3 linked regions of the Homo sapiens genome follow. The protein of the gene in region 1 interacts with the protein of each later gene in a pairwise test. Each region holds a gene or a part of one and is shown in the gene's direction. Other genes may lie near its edges. The genes, in order: H2AP, ATXN3 and GLE1.

What was found.
Region 2: the proteins of H2AP (region 1) and ATXN3 interact in binary tests that used the Homo sapiens proteins (3 or more experiments, as listed by UniProt).
Region 3: the proteins of H2AP (region 1) and GLE1 interact in binary tests that used the Homo sapiens proteins (3 or more experiments, as listed by UniProt).

The regions. Positions count from the first base shown.
Region 1 is NC_000023.11:37,989,102-37,991,888, forward strand, and holds H2AP (huntingtin-interacting protein M), read left to right. Parts: upstream 1-1,677; 5' UTR 1,678-1,738; coding exon 1,739-2,092; 3' UTR 2,093-2,213; downstream 2,214-2,787.
Region 2 is NC_000014.9:92,078,983-92,082,582, reverse strand, and holds part of ATXN3 (ataxin-3 reference isoform), read left to right. Parts: intron 1-116; coding exon 117-283; intron 284-1,521; coding exon 1,522-1,618; exon of another isoform or gene 1,619-1,630; intron 1,631-3,114; exon of another isoform or gene 3,115-3,168; intron 3,169-3,600. UniProt on the Homo sapiens protein: Deubiquitinating enzyme involved in protein homeostasis maintenance, transcription, cytoskeleton regulation, myogenesis and degradation of misfolded chaperone substrates.
Region 3 is NC_000009.12:128,535,647-128,539,481, forward strand, and holds part of GLE1 (mRNA export factor GLE1), read left to right. Parts: intron 1-708; coding exon 709-838; intron 839-1,180; exon of another isoform or gene 1,181-1,309; intron 1,310-2,339; coding exon 2,340-2,444; intron 2,445-3,835. UniProt on the Homo sapiens protein: Required for the export of mRNAs containing poly(A) tails from the nucleus into the cytoplasm. May be involved in the terminal step of the mRNA transport through the nuclear pore complex (NPC).

The DNA.
Region 1 (2,787 bases):
CGTGGCTAGACATCCTTTTGTTAGTGCCTTTAAGGGATCAAAAGATCAAAGTATTCAATCACATAGATGGTGTTTTGAAGAGATATGGGGTGTGCTTCTCAGAATAAGCAAGGAATAGAGATGGGATTTTCTATGAGGGATCTTGAAGAAGCCTCTTGTCTAATGGCATGAATCCCCATGACATACATAAAAGGCCTGTAAGTTTTTGACAATGTTATATCAGCAGAAACAATGCCAGCTTAGACTGAAAGGGACAAATAGAGGAAGAAATGAAAGAAGTCTACAGGACTCTCAAAATTTGACAGGAGGAAGCAGGCTGATAAAACTACTCAGCTGTAAACATATGCTACCATTCAAAATAAAGGAACAATGACTGAGGGCAGAACCTAGAGGCCAGAGGGCAGATTTATGACCCCAGGTGAAGTCATAGGATCAGAGTCATCAAAGGGAGGAGTCTCAAGCCTTAGAATATTCTCAGGCCTTGAAACCTAATGGTTGGATTTTGAAAATGCTTGGATTTGAGACTCCTTTTTCTTTCCACTTTTTCCCTTGTGGAATGGCAAAGTTATTGGCTGTAAATGAACCAAAGTCAAAGGGAAAACACAGAATTAGTAGAGAAGAAAATTAAATAATAGAAAAGAAACATCTCTTAGTGCTTTGGCTTCACCTAGGAGGGACAAGAAATACACATCTGGGCTTAAACTGAGCACAAGATGCACTTCTCTATCAACTGTTTACCTGGCACTGACAGGTAAACTTATTGAACATCTTATTATTATTATTATTTTTGAGACCGAGTCCCGCTCTGTCTCCCAGGCTGGAGTGTGGTGGCACGATCTCGGCTCACTGCAAACTCCACTTCCCGGGTTCACACCATTCTCTGGCCTCAGCCTCCCAAGTAGCTGGGACTACAGGCGCCCGCCACCACGCCCGGCTAATTATTTTTATTTTTATTTTTATTTTTAGTAGAGACGGGGTTTAACTGTGGTCTCGATCTCCTGACCTTGTGATCCACCCACCTCTGCCTCCCACAGTGCTGGGATTACAGGAGTGAGCCACTGCGCCCGGCTGAGCATCTTATTATTAATTGAAAAATGACTAAAATATATTTTTCAAATGGGGTAAAATCATGACACTCATACAGATATGAAATGAACACATGCTAAAAGAAAAAGATGTTATGACTGCTTCAAAAGGGAAACCAAAGAGTTGATATGGGAATATTCATCAGTAATATTAAATGATTGTGTAAATGGAGGCAAAACTGGTTTCATAAGGTGAAGAACAACCGAACCTCTACTAAAGAATATGCTGTACATGTATCAGCAGCCTACAACTAACAAAAGGCTATAAAAGACTTCACAGATAATGTAAGGCTGGAATCAGATAACCTGCAGTGGTGTCCTAAAGACAGAGCAAAGTTTTCCACTGAAGCACACATTTATTTTTATAATGTCAAAATCAGGTAGAGAGTTATAGTTCCCTCAAAATCAAGGTTCAGTCATTAGCGTGACTAGATCAGTGTCATAGACATTTCTAGGCTGAGGTCTGATAAGGGACCAGTGGACACCAATGAAATCACAAAGTCTAGGGATGTCACAAAGGCAGCTAGCTCCCTGACCAATAAGGGCCTGGAGCAGAGGGATACAATAGGCAGGACTAAGCACTAGTGTCCTCAGAGACCTACTTGAGCTAGAGAATCAAGCAGAGCTGATGAGAGCCAAACCCAGCAAACATCATGTCAGAGAAAAAGAACTGTAAGAACTCGTCTACAAATAACAACCAGACTCAAGACCCTTCTAGAAATGAGCTACAGGTCCCTAGGAGCTTCGTGGACCGCGTTGTGCAAGATGAACGAGACGTCCAAAGCCAGAGTTCCTCCACAATAAATACCCTCCTTACCTTGCTCGATTGCCTTGCTGACTACATCATGGAGCGGGTAGGCTTGGAGGCCAGCAACAATGGCAGTATGCGCAACACTTCACAAGATAGGGAGAGAGAAGTGGACAACAACCGTGAGCCCCACAGCGCTGAGAGTGATGTGACTCGCTTTTTGTTTGATGAGATGCCCAAATCCAGGAAGAATGACTGAAGACTGGGTCCCAGAGCCTTGAAGGGAACCTCACAGGCTTAGCCAGGGCAAAAATGTGTCACAGCTGAGGAATATCTGCTGTTGTCATCAACAAGTGCTATTAAAGGATGTAAATCCATGAGTATGTTTCTGACTCCTCTCAGTTTCTGTCGCTTTGGGTTGTAGGTGTCTGTAAGACATCCAGGGGAAGCTATCCCCAGAGAGCTGAAGGCGGGGAAGGGGTGGCCAGTGTGGTGTTTGAATCAGTGATTTAGAGGGGGCAGTTTCCAATGGTGACAGTGAGGGCGCCGGCCCTGTGGGGAGGAACTGGCTGGGATAAAGACACCGAGACTTCCTCATTGTCTCTGAACAGGAAGGCCTTGTGAGGCCAGGGAGTTGGCTGGGGGCCTCTGAGGCTTGTTGAATTCCCAGCCTGATGCTGGGGCCTGAGGTGGAGCTGCAGACTCTGACTGAGGTGCAGGAGGCTTTATTCAGGATAGCAAAGGTCTGAAGTCAGAGGGCGGTGGCCACAGGGGTGGGTGGAGAGGGGCACACTGGCTGGCATGAAGTTCATGGGACAGGGGCTTTACATGGAGATTGAAGAGTGAAGGAGAAACCATCATGAAAAATGCAAAAAAGAAATGATGGCCTGCTGGATTTCATTTCTTATTTCTTTATGCCCTGCCTTATTATGAAAGCGGATTTGAGACAGGGAT
Region 2 (3,600 bases), on another chromosome or scaffold:
TGCCAGAAAACATTTTAAGTTTTGACTTACTTAAAGCCTTTACATTACAAATGCCTTTATGTTATGTCTAAAATAGAAGATTGGTTGCAGTTATTACCAGTGCTTTTGTTCTTTAGAGTCCATAAAACAGACCTGGAACGAGTGTTAGAAGCAAATGATGGCTCAGGAATGTTAGACGAAGATGAGGAGGATTTGCAGAGGGCTCTGGCACTAAGTCGCCAAGAAATTGACATGGAAGATGAGGAAGCAGATCTCCGCAGGGCTATTCAGCTAAGTATGCAAGGTAAAGACATTCTGATGTGTGTTGTATTCATTGCTGAAGAATTGATTCCAATTATTCTTAGATTTCATGGAAGTTAATGTACTCTTAGAGGTGTTTTGACAATTACTGCAGAAGCAATAGCTATATAGTGGGCTTTCCCTTTAGATTTCTTATAATGGAAATCACTTTTTACAACCTATATTTTATTAGGAGTAGTTATATTTTTACTCCTGGTTATTTTATTTGGTTTCAACACTGTACTAACACAATAGTAAATTGTGGTTTTAATCTTTGTGGGTATCAGTTGACCCTTATCCAAATCAGCTGTTACATAAATATGTGCCATTAGACACTATGGAAGGGCCTGGACAGGGAATATAAACTGATTTTACAAAAACCCAACATTTATTGGCTATGCAACTTAAACCGTAAGCCCACTTTGGTGGGCCCAGTTTTTTAGTGATATAAACTATCAATAGAGAAAAGCGAAAACATATCCCCTAGACAATCTAGGCAAAGAAAAATGTTAAGACATAGCTCAAAGTAGCTTAATTAAAAGTTTGAAGTGGGTTTTTTGTTTTATTTTTTTCTAACTCATATGTATTTGCTTCTACTTTCTAATGAAATTATTTATCAGTTGATTTCCTTAGATATCTAAATAAAATTGAAATTTCATTAATGGGAAGATTATTTTTATCCTGAACTTTTCTTGCCTCTATGCATGCCTCTGAGTACTCCATATGGTGTGCAATCCCATTTTTGATTAATAGAGTCCTGCTGGATTAGCAGGGACAGAAATCAGCTTTAGATTTCTTTCTTTTTTTTTTTTCTTTCTTTTTTTTTTTTTTTTTTTTTGAGTCAGAGTCTCACTGTCGCCCAGCCTGGAGTGCAGTGATCTTGGCTCACTGCAACCCCTGCCTCCGAGGTTCAAGCGATTCTCCTGCCTCAGCCTCCTGAGTAGCTGGGACTACAGGCGCCTACCACCACGCCCAGCTAATTTTTTGTACTTTTAGTAGAGATAGGGTTTTGCCCTTTTGGCCAGGCTGGTCTTGAACTCCTGACCTCAGGTGATCCACCTGCCTTGGCCTCCCAAAGTGCTGGGATTACATGTGTGAGCCACCACGCCCAGCCAGAAGAGTAGAATATTCTTAAAGAGAAAACGTTTTAAAGGCTTACTCAAATGAGTATAAACAAACATATTGTTGCTTGAATTGGTAAATACAGTGATTGGTTTTTGTTGTGTTGTGTTTTGTTTTCAGGTAGTTCCAGAAACATATCTCAAGATATGACACAGACATCAGGTACAAATCTTACTTCAGAAGAGCTTCGGAAGAGACGAGAAGCCTACTTTGAAAAGTAAAGTAGTTGGTACAAGTTAAAGTAGCATGTTTAATATTTGCTTTGGCTATTTTGTCTATTTGTAAATGGTTACTGCCTGAATCCTGTGAATATTTGAATGTATTTTTTAAAAATTTACAGCAAATAGGACGGGCACGGTGGCTTACGCCTGTGATGCTAGCAGTTTGGGAGGCCAAGGCGGGCAGATTGCCTGAGGTCAGGAGTTCGAGACCAGCCTGGGCAACACAGTGAAACCCCATCTCTACTAAAAATACAAAAGAATCAGCTGGGCATGGAAGCGTGCGCCTGTAGTCCCAGCTGCTTGGGAGGCTGAGCCAGGAGAATTGCTTGAACCCGGGACGTGGAGGTTGCAGTGAGCCGAGATCGCACCACTGCCCTCCAGACTGGGTGACAGAGTGAGACTCCGTCTCCAAAAATATATGTATATATATATAAATAAAAATAAAAATTTACGGCAAATAACATGAAACAAAAAAACCTTGCCCCAATACTGGATAAATTTTTTAAACTGAGTGAAGGAAACCTTATAAAATTTCATTTATTAAAAGAAAAATGAAATTAGGACAAGACAAGAAGAATGCCAATTGATCCTTTGGATGTACTTCTTGCTTACCTGATTAACCCTGCAAAATTCCTCTACCAATCAGTACGAAAAACAGCTTTGGAGGTATGGGAGCGCATTCCCAAATAGACGTGGTAGTTCATTTAGCTGCTCATGGCCGCTTCAGGCAGTCCTGTAAGCCTGTTAGCATCAGGGGAATGGATGCAAACCATAAATCTGGATCAACTCCTAAAACCTTACCTTGTGCCCAGCCTTGTAAGTGCTTGCTAAATAGGAATTCCACCATATGAAAATACATTCTTTTCAAGTAACTATCATTCAGACTTTTGTCCCCCACTTTTTTTTTTTAAAGAAAAATAAAAGGCTGGGCACGGTGGCTTACGTCTGTAATCCCACCATTTTAGGAGGCCAAGGCAGGTGGATCACCTGAGGTCAGGAATTCAAGACCAGCCTGACCAACATGGTGAAACCTCATCTCTACTAAAAATACAAAAATTAGCCGGGCATGGTGGTGGGTGCCTGTAATCCCAGCTACTTGGGAGGCTCAGACAGGAGAATCGCTTGAATCTGGGAGGCAGAAGTTGCAGTGAGCTGAGATAACGCCATTGCACTCCAGCCTGGGGGACAAGAGCGAGACTTCGTCTCAAAAAAAAAGAGAAAGAAAACTTCATGTTAAAGATTACAAGATAAATAATCAGACCCACTGATCCTAGGTCAGAAAACAGAGTCATAGCTCAATCTGACTTACTATTTGCTGTATTTCATCCATTCTGAGATGCACATAGTTTCACATTTCAATGTCTCTGAAATTGAGAAGCATCTTACAGTCATAATTGACAGTATATTAGCAGCACCTATAAATATTGGCTCATTTTACATTTGATGGTATAATGAAGAAAATATTTACCTTTTTTTCTGTTTTGTTTTTAAGTCACAACTCAGAAGTAGATGAAGGAAAATTCTGATCAGCTGACATCCTCTTAATGTGAGATATTTCTAGTCTTTATTCAGTATAGATTAATGGCTAATTATATGTTAAATTTCAAAGTAGTGCTTATTAGTGCTTTTTACTTTTAAGTTTCAAAATTAACTTTTTTATTATAATAAACTCCAAATTTATACAAAAGTAGAAAAACTAGCATACTCCTGTTTATGACCCAGATTCAACAAATACTAGCACACGGCCAATCTTGCTTTTTTTTTTTTTTTTTTTTGAGATGGAGTCTTGCTCTGTTGCCCAGGCTGGAGTGCAATGGCACAATTTCTGCTCACTGCAACCTCTGCCTCCTGAGTTCAAGCGATTCTCCCACTTCAGCCTCCCAAGTAGCTGGGATTACAGGTACACACCACCATGCCTGGCTAATTCTTGTATTTTTAGTAGACACGGGATTTCACCATGTCGTCCAGGCTGGCCTTA
Region 3 (3,835 bases), on another chromosome or scaffold:
CCTGTCTCTACTAAAAATACAAAAAATTAGCCAGGTGTGGTGGCAGGTGCCTTAATCACAGCTACTCGGGAGGCAGAGGCAGAAGAATCGCTTGAACCCGAGAGGCGGAGATTGCCTGAGATCGTGCTATTGCTTTCTAGCCTGGGCGACAAGATGGAAATTCCATCTCAAAAAAAAAAATTAGCCGGCTATGGTGGCATGTGCCTGTGGTCCTAGCTACTCAGGAGGCTGAGGCGGGAGGATCACTTGAACCTGGGTGGTGAAGTTTGCAGTGAGCCTTGATCATACCACTGTACTCCAGCCTGGGTGACAGAGACTCTGTTTCCCAAAAAAAAGCAATTTATCTCTAATTTGTCACCCTTATTTTGGCCTTGTCCCAGTGAATTTTTTCTTATTTCTTTTTTTTGAGACACAGTCTTACTGTTACCCAGGCTGGAGTGCAGTGATGCAATCTTGACTCACTGCAACCTCCACCTCCCAGGTTCAAGCAATTCTCATGCCTCAGCCTCCCAATTAGCTGGGACAAACAGGCATGCACCACCATACCCAGTTAATTTTTGTATTTTTAGTAGAGATGGGGTTTCACCACATTGGCCAGGCTAGTCTTGAACTCCTGGCCTCAAGTGATCTGCCCACCTTGGCCTCCCAAAGTGCTGGGATTACAAGCGTGAGCCACCACACCCGGCCAAATTTTTTCTTCCCGTATAGGATGCTTGGTTACCAAGTAAAGGATTCCAAAGTGGAGCAGCAAGACAACTTTCTAAAACGCATGTCAGGGATGATCCGTCTCTACGCTGCTATCATCCAGCTCCGGTGGCCATATGGAAACCGACAGGAGGTAGGTAAAAGAGGCTTACTGTCAATAATGAGAGGTTAGACCACAGTCCATGTGTATTCCTCCCACAGGAAATGTTGGCCTTCTTTCAGAGAGCCAGTCTAGTTAAAGGATAAACTATATGGCAGTTTCATGGGTATTATGTAGAGGACTGAATGTTGATTATTAGGGAACTTTCTTGGATCACCTGGTACTTTAAAGAGCTGGTTTTGTAACAGAGTCTACCAGAGGAGAGTCTGTTATAAATCAGTCATTAAGGTTAGAAGATTTTCTTACAAGAGGAATGAGCAAGAAATTGTCATCTTAGAACTAGTTGAGACCTTAGAAGCCATCTAGATCACATACCTTACTTCACAGATGGACAGAACAAGCTCAGAAAGCTGCAGCTGGGGTTCAGGGCTTTGACTTGCCAGCCCAATTAATTTCTCAGGGAATACAGATTAGAAGGACAGAGAAATTAATAGTTACGGAGACCTAAAGAGAAAAAATAGAAGTTGATTAAATCCAAGTTTTTATTGTATGCCTGCTGTGTCCCAGGTTCTGTGCTAAAGGTACCAAGAATAATAAATAAAATGTCAATAAGGCTAATTGTTACCCTATGGAATGCCTGAAACTGAAGCTGACACATGCATATTGAAGGGAGCCTATAAAGAATGTGTGGGAACCAATGTATTGAAACATTAAAAAATAGAAGGCGAGGTAGCTTCAGGCCTGATATCCCAGCACTTTGGGAGGCTGAGGTGGGTGGATCACCTAAGGTCAGGAGTTCAAGACCAGCCTGGCCAACATGGTGAAACCCCGTCTCTACTAAAAATACAAAAATTAGCTGGGCATGGTGGTGGGCACCTGTAATTCCAGCTACTTGGGAGGCTGAGGCACGAGAATCGCTTTAACCCAGGAGGCAGAGGTGGCAATGAGCCGAGATCACGCCATTGCACTCCAGCCTGGGCAACAAGAGCAAAACTCTCCCTCAAAAAAAAAAAAAAAAAAAAAAAAAGAATGTGTGGGAACCAATGTACTGAAACATTTAAATACAGAAGGCTGGGCGAGGTAGATTCATGCCTGTAATCCCAGCCCTTTAGGAAGCCGAGACAGGTGGGTCATTTGACTCCAGGAGTTTGAGACCAGCCTGGGCAACAAGGTGAAACCATGTCTCTAAATAAAATACAAAAAAATTAGCTGAGCACGGTGGCATGTGCATGCCTGTAGTCCCAGCTACTTGGGAGACTGAAGTGGAAGAATCACTTGAGCCCAGGAGGTGAAGGCTGCAGTGATCCATGATCGCACTATAGCACTCCAACCTGGACAACAAAGTGAGACCCTGTCTCAAAAAAATAAAAGAAAAACAGAATTTGTTTAGTTTGTGTTATTTCTGCCCTGTGGCAGGTGCTAGGGCTGGATGATCTGGGGTTCATTTCCACTTGGTAATGGCTGGATGATACACTGGGAGTTTAGATTTCTAAACAAAATGAGATCAATGATAACCAAGCTTCTCTACTCCCAGATTCACCCTCATGGCTTAAATCATGGATGGCGCTGGTTGGCACAGATCTTAAACATGGAGCCCTTGTCAGATGTGACAGCCACCCTCCTCTTTGACTTCCTGGAGGTACGTAACTCAGTTATCACACAAGAGAAGGCCAGTGGTTGAGGTAGCCTTGATCCACTGGGTGACATGAATGGGGAAACAGCATAGCATTTGGGCCTGATAGTAAAACAGCATGAGGTTCCAGTGTCATACATTTTTCCCAAGCTGTAGACCAACCTTGCTTTCACTTTTACTCCATACTATATTTACTTGGCTTCTCTGGATTTTTTTCATTATAAAGAACAGAAAATTGTACATTCTAGCAAAAGTGAAAAGAGGAATTTGTTTTAGGGATATAGAAGGGACTCCCAGGCCGGGTGCGGTGGATCACACCTGTAATCCCAGCACTTTGGGAGGCCAAGGTGGGCGGATGACATGGGGTCAGGAGTTCGAGCCCAGCTGGTCAGTATATTGAAACCCTGTCTGTACTAAAAATACAAATAAAGGCCGGGCACGGTGGCTCACGCCTGTAATCCCAGCACTTTGGGAGGCCGAGGTGGTTGGATTACCTGAAGTCATGAGTTCAAGACGAGCCTGTCCAACATGGTGAAACCCCGTCTCTACTAAAAATAAAAAATCAGCCGGGTGTGATGGTGCACACCTGTCATCCCAGCTACCGAGGAGGCTGAGGCAGGAGAATCGCTTGAACAGGATCTCACTCTGTCAGCCAGGCTGGAGTGCATTAGTGTGATCATAGCTCACTGTAGCCTCAAACTCTTGGGCTCAAGCGATCCTCCCACCTAACCCTGCCAAAGTGTTGAGATTACAGGAGTGAGCCATTGCACTCAGCCAAGAAGACACTTCTTATAGAAGAAAGCCTTGGGGTACATGCCATAACAAATCTGGAACCATTTGATCTATAGTGCCAATAGTTCCTAGTTACCTTAATAGCTCCTGACGTCAGCCAGGTGCAGTGGCTGACAGCCTTTGGGAGGCCAAGGCAGGCGGATCACTTGAGCTCTGGAGTTCAAGACCAGCCAGGGCAATATGGTGAAACCCTATATCTACCAAAAAAATACAAAAATTAGTGGTGTGTGCCTGTGGTCCCAGTTACTGAGGAGGCTGAGGTTGGAGGATCACCTGAGCCCAGGGAGGTTGAGGCTACAGTGAGCTGTGATCATGCCAGTGTCCTCTAGCCTGGGCGACAGAGTGAGACCCTATTTCAAAAAAAAATAAAAAGCTCCTGAAGTCACCATACATGAACAATGATCCTGTATCATTTGAGAACACAAGTGGTATTCTGTATACTCTCCTTACTAAGTTTGGGAGGTATACCATACCTTTAGGAAGGCGTCCATTCATTAGAGGAAAAGAAGAGTAGTTCATTAAGACCTGATTGGTTAAATGGAGATATTGCCATATAAAGAGAAATGCTTTAGAAGAAAGTTGGGTGTTTCCATTTATTCCCTTGT